2 separate regions of the Homo sapiens genome follow, and region 2 is linked to region 1. A link means that fine-mapping ties the variant in region 1 to the expression of a gene that starts in the linked region. Tissue or cell type: whole blood. Region 1 holds a variant in brackets; the other region holds the start of a gene. All regions are shown on one strand. Distances are from middle to middle.

Region 1 (8,101 bases):
GACAGAGCCTGGTCTCACAAGAGGGGAAGGGGGACCTCTATTATTATTTTTGCCTGTATTGACCATTTCTGCCTAGGTCGTCTCAGACAGCCTCATCTCCCACACATGCACAGACTTAGAGAGAAACCAATTCTTTGGTCTATTTTCTTGGTAGCTTTACTGATTGCCAGGGAAAATGAAAACCAGAAAATTAATTAATCTCTAAAATTAAACTTTACACTGAATGTTCTTGTTTCTCTAATTAGAACTTCTGCTAGCAGCTGTGGCTATACACACACACACACACACACACACCCTCACACCTACACGTTTGCACTCCGGAACTGTCAGAGGGTGTCAGGCACAGACAGACTCTAGGTTGCCTAGACAGGCACACACATGCAGTCACTCCCAAGCCCCCTTTGGTGCTCTGCTCAGCGCCTGCTTAGCGGAAGGAGTCCCTGGAGAGCAGGCACTCCTGGACTGGGGTTGTAGCCCATGACCTGCCCTTTGGGGACACAGTTCTGGAGGCTCTGGGCCAATGAATCAGCCCAAGGAGGATGGGCAATGGCGCTCAGCCTGAATCAGTCAGCTAGGTCTCTTGTGGCCCTGGGGGCTGATGTGATTCCTGTAGGTGTGGCCCCAGGGTGGACAGCTACAGAGTGATGGGGGACTCATGTAGGGCACCTGGAAGGCTCCATGTGTCCTGGGGACAAGGGCTTGTGGGGTGGGCTGGGCCTGGCTGGGGAGAAGACAGGTCTCTGTCAATTGGGTGCATCACACTGTGGCCTTTTTGTCGTGGATTTAAGCGCAAAGATTGTACAAATCAAACTGGTGGATAATAAAGTCGTGGATGACTCACTGACTTCCTGTCCCAGTGTGGCACTTCTTTCCCTCCCTCCCAGGGAAGCTCTCTGGGGTGGGTGGCAGGGATTGTGTCATCCTTCCCTGGAAGTTGTCATCTACAGTTGCCTCCCCAGAGGAGTCCACTGGGTCTGAGCCCCTGGTGTCAGCTCATTGTCCCCTTCCCAGGTTGGGAGTTGGGGAACTAGGGGATGGCGTGGCCTGTAGAACTGGATCACTTAAAGCAGAGTCAAGCAACAGGGAAATGCATCTACAGGGATGAGGGTGGCAGAGAGAGCCAGGCATAGCCCTGCTGTAGCCAGAGGGTGTGTGTGTGTGTGTGTGTGTGTGTGTGTGTGTGTGTGTGTGTGTGTTTGAAGATCAAGGATCTGTTTGGTAGAGAAGAAAATGGTGGGGAGTCAGGGAGGCAGGCAGCCCCAACGGGAGAATCTGGCAGGCACAGTCCCTCAGACACCTCTCTGACTTCCCTGTTCCTGAAAGAAGTTGGTCATTTGTGGGTGTCCAGTAATATCCTTTCCCTGGGCACAAAGGCTGGGTCCCTACTGCATACCCTTTCTTCCCCCATGCCAGGCTCCCTTCCCTGCCTCATGTCTCCATCCATACAACCCTTGATCACTCCAAGGTTATTCACAGTCCCCCTCCCCGCTCCCTCTGAACCAGTGTGATACTCTGCAGCAGGCATGGCAGGGGTATGAAATGAGGGATGGGGCTGGGGCCATGATCCAAGTCAGGTCATTTTATCCCACAGAGTTCTCAGGGCCATTGGCAGTTATGGTTGACATGAAGTGGCTGGGATTCAGGGCCCGCTGGCGGGCTGCTTCTCGGTTTGCGTAGAGGGCCTGGCCAATGAGGTACTCGCTTTCCTGGGCCACATCTGACAGGCGCAAGTCAAATTCCAGGAGGGTCTTGTTGTCTGACATGCCTTCCAGGAGCTGCTTCCCACCGTCCTGGGAGAAGGGTGCAAAGGAAGGGGTCATTTACATCACTACCCAGGATCTGACACACATACTACACATTTTCAGGTAGATGTGACTAAAACAAAAGTTTCACAAAACAATACTTAACCTATTTGTGACGCATGATGACATATTCTGTTCTTTTCCATTTGAAAAATGGTAGCCAATACCCACTAAATTGACATCTCAACCCTACTAGTTTGAAAAACATGAATCTCTGGCAATGAAGATAATTCCATTCCTTTGGTTCAGCCATGGGCATGTGGGACAAATCTAATGAGATGTGAGGGGGAAGCTGAGAGAGGGTGGCTTCTGGGAAGCTTCTCCTCATTCCAAAAAGAGAAGAAAAGGGAGCAGGTGTTCTCCCGGTTTCTGCCTCTGGGCATGTCCCTGTATGAGATGTCAGAACTGTGGCAGCCATCTTGGGACTGACAGAAGCACTAGCGAGGCATTGGCCATGAGACTGGGGTGGGCAGAGCAGAGGGTAGCACTGAACCCAGGGGTTTACCGACCCTACAACCCTCTAATTCTGGTTGTGGGAGACACTGAATATTCCTCCTGCTTAAGCCATTTCTGATTAAGCTTTTTATTACTTGCAGTCAACAGCACCCCCTCTAGAAACTGTGTGTGTGTGTGTGTGCGCGCATGCACGTGTGTGTGCGTGTATGTGCCTGTGTAGGTGAGCAAGGCTGTTCTCATGGGGAGGTTTAGTAGAGGGTTCAGTGACCTAATGGAGGGCCCTGCTCAATGGTCATCACAGCTCCAACCCCTGCTGGGCTGGGTGGGCTAGCCCCAATGTGAAAGAATTTCACGTTGGGAGGCAGAATGCTACCATTCTGTGGTTGTGACCCAGTAGTGTGTTGCAAAGTCAATTTAATGGGTCACAGAAGCATTTTAAAAAATACAATAGAATGGAATGTAAAGGAAAATATCAGCATATATCACGTCATAAATTTCAATATTATGTTTATGTCAGTGTTCATGTAAATTGCATTTTTTTTTTGAGACGGAGTCTCGCACTGTCACCCAGGCTGGAGTGCAGGGGCACGATCTCAGCTCACTGCAATCTCCGCCTCCTGGGTTCAAGCAATTCTCCTGCCTCAGGCTCCCAAGTAGCTGGGGTTACAGGTGCATGCCACCACATTGGGCTGATTTTTGTATTTTTAGTAGATATGGGGTTTCACCATGTTGGCCAGACTGGTCTCGAACTCCTGGCCTCAGGTGATCTACCCACCTCAGCCTCCCAAAGTGCTGGGATTACAGGC[G/A]TGAGCCACTGTGCCTGGTCGTAAATTGCATTTCTTACTCTCAGACTTGGTTAAGAAAGTTTTAGAGACACAGTCTATTAGAAAGGACTCAGGCTTTCAATCAATCTTGGGTTTGAATCGTAGCCTTGCCACTTGCTACTGACTTGATGCCCTTGGGCAACTCACTATCCTCTCTGAAACTTAGTTTTCCATCTAGAAAGTAGGGTTAAATATACTTAGTTATATACTTAAATATATTTAGGGTTAAATATGCTTAGGGTTAATATACAGTTACTTAGGTAACTGTAAGGATTAAAGGAAAAATAATCATTGGGATACACAGTATGTGTGCATACTTGATGCAGTATGTAGTATGTAAACTCTGTGATCTTCACAATTATCCCACAAGTACCCCTGGCAGTTGGATTCCACACCCACCCTCACAAGCCCAGAATAGGTGGCTCACCAGCCCGATGTGGTTGCAGGACAGGTTGATGCTGGTGAGTGTGGTGTTGATGGCGAGCACCTGTGACAGGAGTGTGGCGGTGGGCTCAGACAGCTCATTGCCACCGAGGTGCAGCGTGGTGAGGCACTTGTTGGTCTGCAAGGCATGGGCAAGAGCCTGGCCACCCTCATCCTCGATGCAGTTGAGACGTAGGTTGAGGGAAATGAGGTTGGTGTTGTGTGCCAGAGCGTGAGCCAGGGACTGGGCACCGGGTGCACGCACCTGGTTGTTAGCCAGGTTGAGCACACGCAGGCGGCTGTGGCTCAGCAGCTTGGCAGCACCTCGTGCACCACGGTCTCCAATGAGGTTTTGTGACAAGTCCAGCTCCTCGAGGACTGGGTGGTCCAGAAGGCTTCGAATTATGATGCGTGCCTTGTCATCATCCACCTTGCTTCGGGTCAGCTTGAAGATCTGTGGGCAGGCAGAGGGTCTACAGCAACTGCCAGCCAGGGATAATCAGCCTGCCCACCTAGATCTTTGGCAAACTTGGCTCACCTAGTGTTGGCCACCTGGCTGGGTCTTGGAGGGGGCCAGGCCTACCAGCATGGCAGAGTAGTGTAGAATTGGTGGCAGGTAGCAGGGAGGAAAGATCACTGTTTATTGAGCAATTACTACATGCTGGGTATGCTGCTTGGGTCTTCCTTTTTTATCTTTTTTTTTTTTTTTTTTTTTGAGACGGAGTCTCGCTCTGTCACCCAGGCTGGAGTGCAGTGGCGTGATCTTGGCTCACTGCAAGGTCCACCTTCCGGATTCACACCATTCTCCTGCCTCAGCCTCCTGAGTAGCTGAGACTACAAGTGCCCGCCACCACGCCCTGCTAATTTTTTGTATTTTTAGTAGAGACAGGGTTTTACCGTGTTAGCCAGGATGGTCTTGATCTCCTGACCTCGTGATCCACCCGCCTCAGCCTCCCAAAGTGCTGGGAATACAGGCGTGAGCCACCGCGCCCGGCCGCTTGGGTCTTTCACAACCATTATCTCTAACCTTCAGCATCTCGATGAAGAAGAGAAAGTTCTCTCCATTTTACAGACAGAAAATGGAGGCTTACATTATTTCCCCAGAGTAATGCAGTGATTGAAGCAGTTGAGACAGGTTTGGAATCCAAGCCTGCCTGAGGCCTCAGCCCCTCACTGCATCCTCCTCTCCCAGCCAAGATCCACCAGGGCAAGGAGAGGACCTCTTTGAAGGAGGTTGCCAGGGCAAGAACCAGGGAGACAGTGGGGAGGTGGAGAAGCAGGAAAAGGATGAGATAAAGGAATGAAGGAAAGGGGATGGGGCTGGCAGTATGAATATTGTCCATGGGAACCTCTCCCCCTCACCTTCCCGCTGGCTTGTCCCACTCCTCTCTCTCCCTTGAGACCTCTGAGTGTCTGGCCTCTCTCTCTCTACCCTTCGGTTCACTCCTTTTTATACCCCTCTTACCCAGCTGAGTCCTTTGTGTCTCTTCTCTTTTCATTGCGTCTCTCTGGCAAAGCCCTAACCCTGGATCAGCCCCACTCTCTATTTTCTGCATGCCTGTGCGCAAGCAACTGACAAAATAGAAAACATCAGCTGATGGGACTGGTTGCTATCACCGGAAACACCAATAGGCTTGTAACGCTGCATGCCAATCTAACTATATTTCTCTGGCCAAAATACCCTCTTATAATCTACAACAACTATTTCAGCTTTTTGCAGCCTCCTCAGAATTCAGGGGCCTCCTTGCTGAGCCCCCTCTTTCAGCAGGTGAACTCTCCTCTTGCCTTCTCAGTCATTGAATGGGAACCTGTCATTTTCCTGATACCAAGCACTGACTTATTGGTCTATGAACCCGTGCCTCTCTTCTACATTCATCCCCTTTCTTGCAACTGGATGGAGCCTTACACTGGTTTTAAACATATGTGAGTTATTCTGAAGGAACCCAAAGCTCTCATCGGTTATGGCTGTACCTTTTCCCCTTCGCAGCCAAGTTCTTGAAAAAGCTGATCACAGCCACCCATTCCTCACTTCCCACTCTCCCCAGAAACCACTGCTATCTGGCCTCTGCTCCTGCCACTCCACTGAAATAGCTCCCCCTCAGTGACCTCCATGTTCACTAAATCCAGTCCTCAGCTCTATTCCACCCCGTTGCTCACTCCCTCTACTTGAAACATACCCCTCCCTTGCTCTGTGACACAATGCCATGTTTCCCCATTTCCTCCTCCCTCTGGCTTCCTGGCAAGCTCTTCTTCTTCCACTGAGACCACATGCCAGGCCTCTTGTTGTCTTGCTTTTGGCTCTCCCCTGTGAGACTCCATCCAAACCCAGGGCTGCAACTGCCACCTTCATGAAGATGGCACACATTCCCACATTCAATTCAGACCTCTCATCTGAGCTTCGGACCCTCTACCCAACTAACGAAATGACCCCTTCTTTGAGATGCCTCAAACTGAAACTTACACTCTTCCCCCTCAAAACTGATCCTCTTCCCACATTCCCTGTCTCTGCACATGGTCCCTCCAGCCATCCAGCCTCACAAGCCAGAGGTCTTGCACCTCACCTCCTTCTCCTTCCTTCTCCTTCAGATCCTCCCTGTGCCAGTGTGGCCAGGTGCATGCCAGACACATGTCTGCCTAAATATGTGTTGACTCTCTCCACTCCTTTGAGTCTCCACAGACACTACCCTCGCTGAAATGACCCTCACCCTCACCTGGATTTGGCAGTGATCTCCTAGGTAATCTGCATGTCCACTGCTGCCCTGCCCAGGCCATCCTCCCTCACAGACGGAGTGACATTTTCACATGTGAAATCCAGTAATGGTACCTACTTTTTTGCCTAAAACCCTTGGATGGTGTCCCAGAGCTCCTAAGGATAAAGATAGCCTCCTGGACAAAGCCTCCTTCACCCAGCAAGGCTGACCACCTCACACTCTGCGCCAGCCACACAGTCTTCTCTTTCTCTTTGAGCTGGCCATGTTCACTCTGCCCATAGAGCCTGTATGCACTGCTCCCTCTGTCTGGAACGCTCCTCCCTCTGAGACTGTAACTCGTCCTCCTCCTTCTAATCTCTATGTAAGTGACATTTGTTCAGGGAAGCCTTCCCTTGCAAGGTCAAATGCTCCTTTACAATCTCTCATAAGAGTATCTCTTCTTTATAGCATTCATCCCAATTCAGGGGTACCAGAAAAAAGTACAGGATGCCCAGTTAAAAATAAATTTCAGATAAATAAGAACGCCCCATGGAATATTCGGGACATACTTATAAAAATTCTTTGCTGTTTATCTGAAATTCAAAATTTTTGGAGACAGGGTCTCATTTTGTAACCCAGGCTGGAGTGCAGTGGTGTGATTGCAGCTCACTGCAGGCTTGAACTCCGAGGCTCAAGGGATTCTCCTACCTCAGCCTCCTCAGTCTCTGGAAGACTACAAGCGTGCCTGGACCTGAAATTCACATTTAACTGGATGTCCTGTATTTCTATTTGCTACATCTGGCAACCCTATTCTAGTATCAATTTTATGTTTATATGATTGCTGATTAGTGCCTTTATCCCATCAGACTGTTAGCTACAGAGGGCACAAATGATAATCTTGCTCATCCTTGAATCTTCAGCACCTAGGACAGGGCCTGGAGCGCAGCTGTTTGTTCAATGAAACCAACTGGTGAACTGGGAGAGCAGCGCCTTGTTCATCTCTACACCCCCAGAACCGTGTATCTTGGTGCAGGGTGCATTAAAAAACACTTGGCCAATGAAAGAGAAGGAAATAGGAAGAAGGCAATAATAGAGGAGGAAGAGGAGGGGAGAGGGAATCTGAGAGATGCTGAGAAGGGGTGGGGGGAAGGCTGGGAGCAGACAGTACCTTGAGGGTGTGGCATGCCTTGATGGCGGCTGCCAAGGAGAGGCAGTCACGGTAGGTGAAGAGGAAGAGATTCCACTCGAAATTCATGCCGCAGTCCTTGACATCGTACACCAGGTCCAGCTCCTCCAGGTGGCTCAGGCCAGCTACCAGATCGCCCAGTTGGTAGTGGTCAACGGTGGGCTCCTCCATCTCTCCCTCGCTGCCTGAGTCGGACTGGTCGCCCGGCCGGAGCTGGGCCGGGAGCTGCACCGGCGGAAGGAACTGATCGACGTGGACCCTGCGCACGTAATTCCGGCAGAGCGGCAGCAGGTCGAGGATCACCGCAGGGTCTGTGGTGCCTGGGATAAAGTGCTTTAGCAGGTTCTCCAGGTGCCGCTCGAAGAACATGCGTTTCCAGCTGCCGCCATGGTGGGCCACGTGGCACACGGGCCAGCGATGCATGCAGCAGCGGAGCCAGTAGTTCTCACTGTCTATCAGGTTGGCGGTCACAGCCAGTGGTAGGTCAGGGGACAGGTGGTTCAGGACCTTCTGCTGGTGTTCCGGGAGCATCTGCTTCAGGATAGGGTTTTCTTTGGGAACAGAGGAAGGAGCGCAGGGGGTCACAGTGTTGGGGGACACCTCAACATGATGCCTCAGGCTGGGCCTGCCTGGGAGCACCAGGCAAAGGAGAGACCCTTCCCTGCTTAGGGGATAGACAGCCTCTGCTCTCAGGGGGGCTCAAGCAGAGGGTGGGACACA
Region 2 (8,101 bases), 36 kb before region 1:
AATTGCTTTTTGAACTCTGGGAAACCGAAAATGAACAAAAATTTCCATTTTCTATGGCATCAAAAAAATAACAATACTAACAATACAGTGAGCAAAAATTATGCAAGAGACTTCCCTTGTGTTCTAGTGGAATGTGAAAATGGAGGCAAAGAGATGGAGTCCATGCTGGCTGTGCAGACCTGCCCAATTGTCCAATGCATCTGAATGTCAGGCTCACTAGTATTGGAGGGTGTCAGTTCAGGGTATTCCCTCAGGAATTCAGAGAGCTAAGGCTCGTGGAACTGGGAAGGCCCAGAAAGTAACGGGACACACCTGGCAGGCACTGAGCTTAAGAGGCTGCTTGTTCTAGGGGTTCAGGGTCCACAGCTACTCTCCATGCTCATATCTCTGATGTCCTGTTACCCTCAGTTGTTTTATTCGTTCACTGAGCTTTATTTAACTCCCCTCCGTGGCCTCTGTGAACCCTAGAGACTCTGTCCAGGCTGAGTCTCTGTGCTCCCTGCAAGACTTTGCTGAGCTTTATGTAGCTTAGGGGTCTGCAAACGTTTTCTGTAAAAGGCAAGAGAGTAAATGTCTTAGGGTTTGCAAGCGTTATGGTCTCTGTCACACCTATCGATTTTGACTTTATGTTACAGAAGCAGTCAAAGACAAGGGCTACGTTTCAACAAAACTTCATTAAAATTGGCCAGGCGCAGTGGCTCACGACTGTAATCTCAGCACTTTGGGAGTCTGAGGCGGGCAGATCACCTGAAGTCAGGAGTTCGAAACCAGCCTGGCCGACATGGTGAAACCCGGTCTCTACCAAAAATACAAAAATTAGCCGGGCGTGGTGGCGGGCGCCTGTAATCCCAGCTACCTGGGATGCTCAGGCAGGAAAATCGCTTGAACCCGGGAAGTGGAGGTCGCAGTATGCTGAGATTCTGCCATTGCACCCCAGCCTGGGAGACGAGTGAGACTCCGTCTAAAAAAAAAAAAAAAAAACTTCATGAAAACAGAAATTCAAATTTCATATAATTTTCCCATGTCAAAATAATATCTTTCTTTTGATTTTTTTTTCAACCATTATGAAGTGTAAAAACCCTTCTTAGCCCACAGGCCATTCAAAAAACAAGCAGCAGGCCCACCAGCTGCAGACCTTGGGTTGTTAATCCCTGCTTTAGCTGGCCACCCTCCGACAGCAGAAGGTTGGGCTGGGCCTAGGAGGTTTCATGGAGGAATAAAAGGGATCTGGGGAACATCAGTGGTTCCAAGGCTGGGAATAAGGCTTCGGACGGTGTAGTTTTTTTTTGTTTTGTTTTTGTTTTCTGAGACGGAATCTTGCTCTTATTGCCCAGGCTGGAGTGCAATAGCGCGATCATGGCTCACCGCAACCTCCACCTCCTGGGTTCAAGCGATTCTCCTGCCTCAGCCTCCTGAGTAGCTGGAATTACAGGCATGTGCCACCACACCCAGCTAATTTTGTATTTTTAGTAGAGACGGGGTTTCTCCATGTTGGTCAGGCTGGTCTCAAAACTCCTGACCTCAGGTGATCCGCCCGCCTTGGCCTCCCAAAGGTCTGGGATTACAGGCGTGAGCCACCCGTGCCCAGTCTGGAAGACATAGTTTTAAGCCTGTCTTTTATAACCTTCACTTCTCTCACTCTTAAGATCAGGACTTCTTACCAGTGGCATTTGCAGCCCTCTGCGACCTAACCCCCATCTGCAGGGCTACTTTCAACTCCTTGTGCTTCCCTTTGGGGTTCCTGAGCTATGGTTCCTCTAATGGGGCTCTGTTCCTTTCCATGCTTTCCATGTCATGGCCTGGCTAGGCATGGTCCTAAGACTGCTCCCTTTCCCAAGCTGAGCTGAGGGCCTCTGCGGCTTCTCCCATCCTCCTATGGTTCACACTTGGCTGCTGCAGCCTCCAGTGGGTTAAGGGCTCCCAGTCCTGTGTATGCATCTCTGCATCCCCAGGATCTCCACACAGTGGAGGCTTAGTGAGTGTCAATGAGTGGAAAACGATGGAGCTTGTGGACACAGGTAGGCGGTCTCCTGAAAGGCTTCCTGGAAGAGAAAGTGGAATTTCTTTTTTTTTTTTCTTTTTTGAGACAGAGTCTCACTGTGTCGCTCAGGCTGGAGTGCAGTGGCGTGATCTCGGCTCACGGCAACCTCTGCCGCCCGGGTTCAAGTGATTCTCCTGCTTCAGCCTCCCAAGTAGCGGGGACTATAGGCGCGCTACCACGCCCGGCTAATTTTTGTATTTTTAGTAGAGACAAGGTTTCACCAGAGTGGCCAGGCTGGTCTTGAACTCCTGACCTGGTGATCCGCTGGACTCGGCCTCCCAAAGTGCTGGAATTACAGGCATGAGCCACCGCGCCCAGCCCCCTTTTTTTTTTTTTTTTTTTTTTGAGACGGAGTTTCTCTTTTGTTGCCCAGGCTGGAGTGCAATGGCATGGTCTCAGCTCACTGCAGCCTCTGCCTCCAGAGTTCAAGCAATCTTCCTGCCTCAGCCTCCCAAGTAGCTGGGATTACAGGCATGTGCCACCACGCCCAGCTAATTTTTAGTAGAGACGAGGTTTTTCACCATGTTGGCCAGGCTGGTTGTGAACTACTGACCTCGGGTGATCCACCCACCTCGGCCTTCCAAAGTGCTGGGATTACAGGTATGAGCCACTGTGCCCAGCAGAGAAAGTGGAATTTCTATGCTGGTGTAACATTTGAGATTTTCCCATTTAGAAAGTCTTCAGGAAGCCGTCGAGTCTTGACACAGAAAGGATCCAGCTCAGGGGAAGCCCATCCACAGGAGTGATTCCTGCTTTGGATTTAGGTCCTAGGGGTGAGATCACATCCCTGCTCCATTTCTGGAGCAGAAAGGGAGCTAGTGCAGCAAGGACTCTGAGTAGACGGGCCTTGGGAGTCACTGAAGCCACTTCCCTGTTGACAGAATGTGCACACTGACTTTCATCCGCTCACAGGAGAGTGAGAGTTTGTGAATGCTCTCTGTGAACTGGGGAGCAGATTTTTAATGAGCTCTGCTTAGAAGGAGAGGACACGTTAAGGGATCACGCTCCCACTGGTTTGCGGTTTTGGTCAGGAATAGAGCACCCAACGCCCCTTCTTATAGACTTCTCCCAGCCATAGGCTTTTTGCAGACCATAATGAAAGGGAGAAAGGATATCCAATCGGGATGGTGATGGCAGGCATGGCGAAGTGGACAGGGACAAAGAAGAGGAAAGCAAGGGACACCCTTTGTTCTTTGGTATTCAACACATGAACAAAACTTGTTAACGAATCGTAGACTGGGTAACAACAGGGCTGGTGAGGGAGGACGATGTGGGTGGCTGTGGGGAAACTCTTCCCAAGCATCCCAGGGGTGGGCCAGGAAGGGGAGCAGATGGACATCTACAGGGCACAGAGCAGGGAGTGGCTATTCTCTCCTGGAGGGGTTGTGGGTCCAGCAGGCTTTCGGATGAGGCCTTGGAAAGGCAAGGACAGCTTGCCAACTGGAGGGCAGGCAAAACGGCTGAGCCAGGCCAGACACGGCAGCTCACTGGCCAGGGGCATGGCCTAGGGGCTCTGGTGCCAAGGCTGAAGGGGAACAACTTGGCCAGCCGCTCTGTGGCCGGCATCGTCACGCGGCCTCCAAGAGCTCCGGCTGCCCTGCACTGGTTCCCAGAGACTCCCTCCTTCCCAGGTCCAAATGGCTGCAGGAGCGAAGTGGGCGGAAAAAAAGCGAACCAGCTTGAGAAAGGGCTTGACGTGCCTGCGTAGGGAGGGCGCATGTCCCCGTGCTCCGTGTACGTGGCGGCCGCAGGGGCTAGAGGGGGGTCCCCCCCGCAGGTACTCCACTCTCAGTCTGCAAAAGTGTACGCCCGCAGAGCCGCCCCAGGTGCCTGGGTGTTGTGTGATTGACGCGGGGAAGGAGGGGTCAGCCGATCCCTCCCCAACCCTCCATCCCATCCCTGAGGATTGGGCTGGTACCCGCGTCTCTCGGACAGGTCAGAGCGGGTCGCCGGGTGGGGTCGCTGCAAAAACCCTGCCCCGGCCGCAGCCGGAGAGGCGGAGCCTCGCGGGGAGGGGGCGGGACCGCCGAGACAGGCCTGGAAACTGCTGGAAATGCCGCAGTGCCGCCGCCGCGCCTTCCGCCGCATGTCGGCAAAGAGTCCCCGCCAGCCCCGGCCGGCGCCCTCCCCCTACGCTGAGCTGCCCCTCAGCGCGAACCCTCCGCCCTTCCTCTACTCCTGCGAGAGTCGGGATCTGGGGCTACCCAAGGTTGGGTCCCGAATGCCAGTCCCTCTGTCGGGACGCGAGATGTGTAGGGCAGATGCTAGGAAGAAGATTGGGTCTGGGAGCGGTGGTCCGCGTGGTTAGCTGCCTCCGCTCTTTTTCGGTGTCCCCCCCAGTCCCGCCCTTGGGTGTGGGGACGCCTGCCCCACAAGTGTTTAGGGAGGTCAGTGGGTTCCTCGCCCGTAGAGACACCGTTTATGCCAAATGAGCACTCCTCATCCCCGCTCTTGATGGAGTCATGTCCTAGACGTGAAACTATGGGGCTGTGATCACAAGCAAATGTGTGGGCGGATCCGTTGCTTGGGTTCTTCCCCGCCCCCTCTTTTTTTCGGACCATGACGTCAAGGTGGGCTGGTGGCGGCAGGTGCGGGGTTGACAATCATACTCCTTTAAGGCGGAGGGATCTACAGGAGGGCGGCTGTACTGTGCTTCGCCTTATATAGGGCGACTTGGGGCACGCAGTAGCTCTCTCGAGTCACTCCGGCGCAGTGTTGGGACTGTCTGGGTATCGGAAAGCAAGCCTACGTTGCTCACTATTACGTATAATCCTTTTCTTTTCAAGGTAAGGCTGAGATCTCCGCTAGGCTTCTTTCCCTTTAGTGCTGTATTCGTGTTGTTTTTGTTTTTTTCTGTCCTTTAGGGAGCCTTAGTCTAGATGTCGGGGTGGCTTGTGGATAACGCTCTGGATTTTTATAGGGTGAGGGTAGTGGTGGGTGAGGTTTTTTGAGTCCTCCTCGGTTTTCTCTAGTGTGTTTGGGGGGTGGGGCTTTCTCTCGGCGCCTGCTGGCCGTAGCGAGGTGGGCTGTGGGGTTGGGGCAGTGGGCGGCTGGCAGCTGCACGTGGTGGCCGCGCGGCCCGGGACGCTGCCATTTTTGCCCCTCCACTTCCGGACGCGGCTACGGGGCGTCGGAGGGGGACCGCAGGGTGGCGGGGGTGCCCGCTCGGGTGACTCAGCACGGCCTTGTGGGACTGGCTTTGTCACCTCTCTTATCGGACGCGTTGTTAAAGCCTTCTTGGGTGCTTTGTTTCTGTGAGGGAGGGTTGACGGTGTGGGAAGAGAGCTTTCGGTCTCCAGCACCCGATACTCCCTCCTTCCAGATCTTTCTTGCAGTCCCGGTGGAGGAGGGGCGGGGAGGGGAGCAGGTTCTGGAAGATTCATGGGCTCCTTCCTCCGCCCTTCCTCGAGAGCTGAGATTGTTCTGGAAGCTTCTGGATTCTGGCGCCCCGCCCCAGTGCCCGGATGCTGGGGCGAGGGAGGGTGCACTGCGGCGCCCCCTCCTCGCGTGGTCCTGGCCGACGCATGTCCGGCAGTGACGAGTGTCGGCCTGGTGGCTACGGCCACCATCTTTCTTGGGTTTGGTCCTGTTCTGTAATTTTGTGCTGTGAAAGGGTCGTGGTGGAGCTTTTGGCTTAAGAATTCTTTGTCCGGATTTAATTGCTCCTCCGGTGGGTATCGTATGGATCCCAGGTTATTCCTCCCTGCCCTATGGGGCAGGAGTGTCCCGCCCTTGGACTGGTCTTAGGAACTGACACCTCAGGGGGAGCAGTTTAAAGTTAGTGCCATTTTTATCTTAAACTAGTCACTTTGATCTCCCCCAAATAAAGAACTGTAGGTAGTGATTTTCACATTTAAATTTGTGTAAGGATTACTTGGGATCTCTAGATACCTGGGTTGGACCAACATTATGATTTTTCTGCCATACTACCAGATGATGCTGAGGCTGCTGGTCACCATTCTTTAAGTAGGTGGGTTCTGTGACATTTGGTTGAAGAATATTTAGCTTATTTTCTTTTTCCTTCTGAATTTTCAGGCCTCCCACTTAGTGTGTAGTCTGAGATCTTTAAGAGAATGCATTTTTAGTCTTGGGAAGGGATAGTACTCCGGTTAAACCAGTCTGAACTCACTGTCTAAGGTCCTAACAAATGATATGACCTTTAGGATTTTTAAACATGGGGCCTTAGTGTTCTTTTGTAATTAATGAGATTTTTATTTTAGATGCCTGAGGAAGTGCACCATGGAGAGGAGGAGGTGGAGACTTTTGCCTTTCAGGCAGAAATTGCCCAACTCATGTCCCTCATCATCAATACCTTCTATTCCAACAAGGAGATTTTCCTTCGGGAGTTGATCTCTAATGCTTCTGATGTAGGTGCTCTGGTTTCCACATTTGGCATGGTTTTTTTTTTTGATACTCTAGAAGGAGGGGAAAGGAGTGGTTTGGCCTTTGTTGGGGACTACTATTGAAGGGGGTAAACTTGCAGCTATTCCAAAAAGATGGGTTTTACTCTGGCCATCTTGAACTTGGAAGGGACTATGTCCAGAATAAGTGGGCTCATGGAACTAACTGGTTCTAAAGCCTCAAGATAGGGGGCAATCAGATTTGAGGCTGAGAGAGGTAAACCAAGATTTTCTTTGAAGATACGGGCTTTAAGAAAGCAAAAGTGGCTGAGCGTGTTGGCTCACACCTGTAATGCCAAGGCAGGAGGATCACTTGAGCCTAGGATTTCGAGGGCAGCCTGGGCAACCGCGAGACCTTGTCTCTGCAAAAAATTAAATATTAGTTGGGCACGGTGGCATGTGCCTGTAGTCCCAGCTACTTGGGAAGCTGGGGTTGGGAGGATGGCTCGAACCTGGGAGGTCAAGGCTGCAGTGAGCTGTCATCCTTGCCACTGCACTGTAGCTTGGGCAACAGAGCAAGAGTCTGTCTTGGAAAGAGCAAAAGTAAGTTGCTGTTTGTATTTCCAGGCCTTGGACAAGATTCGCTATGAGAGCCTGACAGACCCTTCGAAGTTGGACAGTGGTAAAGAGCTGAAAATTGACATCATCCCCAACCCTCAGGAACGTACCCTGACTTTGGTAGACACAGGCATTGGCATGACCAAAGCTGATCTCATAAATAATTTGGGAACCATTGCCAAGTCTGGTACTAAAGCATTCATGGAGGCTCTTCAGGTATTGCAGTTCTGTAGGCATTCATACTTATCTGTGTTCTTTGGTTTTTTGCTTCTTTAAAACTTGTGATTGACTTTAAACTTGTTGGCAGGCTGGTGCAGACATCTCCATGATTGGGCAGTTTGGTGTTGGCTTTTATTCTGCCTACTTGGTGGCAGAGAAAGTGGTTGTGATCACAAAGCACAACGATGATGAACAGTATGCTTGGGAGTCTTCTGCTGGAGGTTCCTTCACTGTGCGTGCTGACCATGGTAAGTTAGCTTTTCTGTTACAAGGTAGTTGGGTTAGGATTTTCTGGGCTCACACCAGTAGCAGAAATTTTGGGCATCCTGTCTGTAAAGCAGTTCTTCACAGCAGTTCTGCTGATACTTACTAATTGCTGGTCTCAACTGCATATACTTTTTACCCTGTTACACGCTTGTAATTGACTCTTCTAGGTGAGCCCATTGGCAGGGGTACCAAAGTGATCCTCCATCTTAAAGAAGATCAGACAGAGTACCTAGAAGAGAGGCGGGTCAAAGAAGTAGTGAAGAAGCATTCTCAGTTCATAGGCTATCCCATCACCCTTTATGTGAGTATGGACTTTTAAATCTTTTACACTTAACGTGCAGGATGTTTCCTGTTCTGGAGAATCTCATTGTCCCTGGCTTTTGCTTTCCCTGGTAGTGTTTTGTACTCCAAGGCTAACTTCTGTTTTTGTTACTTAGTTGGAGAAGGAACGAGAGAAGGAAATTAGTGATGATGAGGCAGAGGAAGAGAAAGGTGAGAAAGAAGAGGAAGATAAAGATGATGAAGAAAAACCCAAGATCGAAGATGTGGGTTCAGATGAGGAGGATGACAGCGGTAAGGATAAGAAGAAGAAAACTAAGAAGATCAAAGAGAAATA

The links. PIP is the estimated chance that this variant, and not a neighbour inherited with it, causes the effect.
Region 2: HSP90AB1 starts here. The variant in region 1 is fine-mapped to the expression of HSP90AB1 in whole blood (INTERVAL, PIP 0.97).

Annotation. Positions count from the first base shown.
Region 1 is chr6:44,278,601-44,286,701 of GRCh38, forward strand. It overlaps TMEM151B (transmembrane protein 151B), which reads left to right. Exons shown (of 3, transcript NM_001137560.2): 3 at 1-844. DRC5 (dynein regulatory complex subunit 5) reads right to left here. Exons shown (of 5, transcript NM_182539.4): 3 at 7,364-7,932; 4 at 3,510-3,959; 5 at 134-1,790. The coding sequence ends at 1,581. Among named protein-coding and RNA genes, the nearest start is that of TMEM151B, 12 kb to the left of the region's middle. The variant G/A (reference allele first, on the strand shown) is at 3,065.
Region 2 is chr6:44,242,369-44,250,469 of GRCh38, forward strand. It overlaps HSP90AB1 (heat shock protein 90 alpha family class B member 1), which reads left to right and starts at 4,733. Exons shown (of 12, transcript NM_007355.4): 1 at 4,733-4,827; 2 at 6,262-6,408; 3 at 7,009-7,215; 4 at 7,307-7,466; 5 at 7,653-7,786; 6 at 7,923-8,101. The coding sequence starts at 6,262. RefSeq lists enhancers at 3,035-3,789, 4,544-5,298, 5,783-5,832 and a silencer at 3,993-4,232.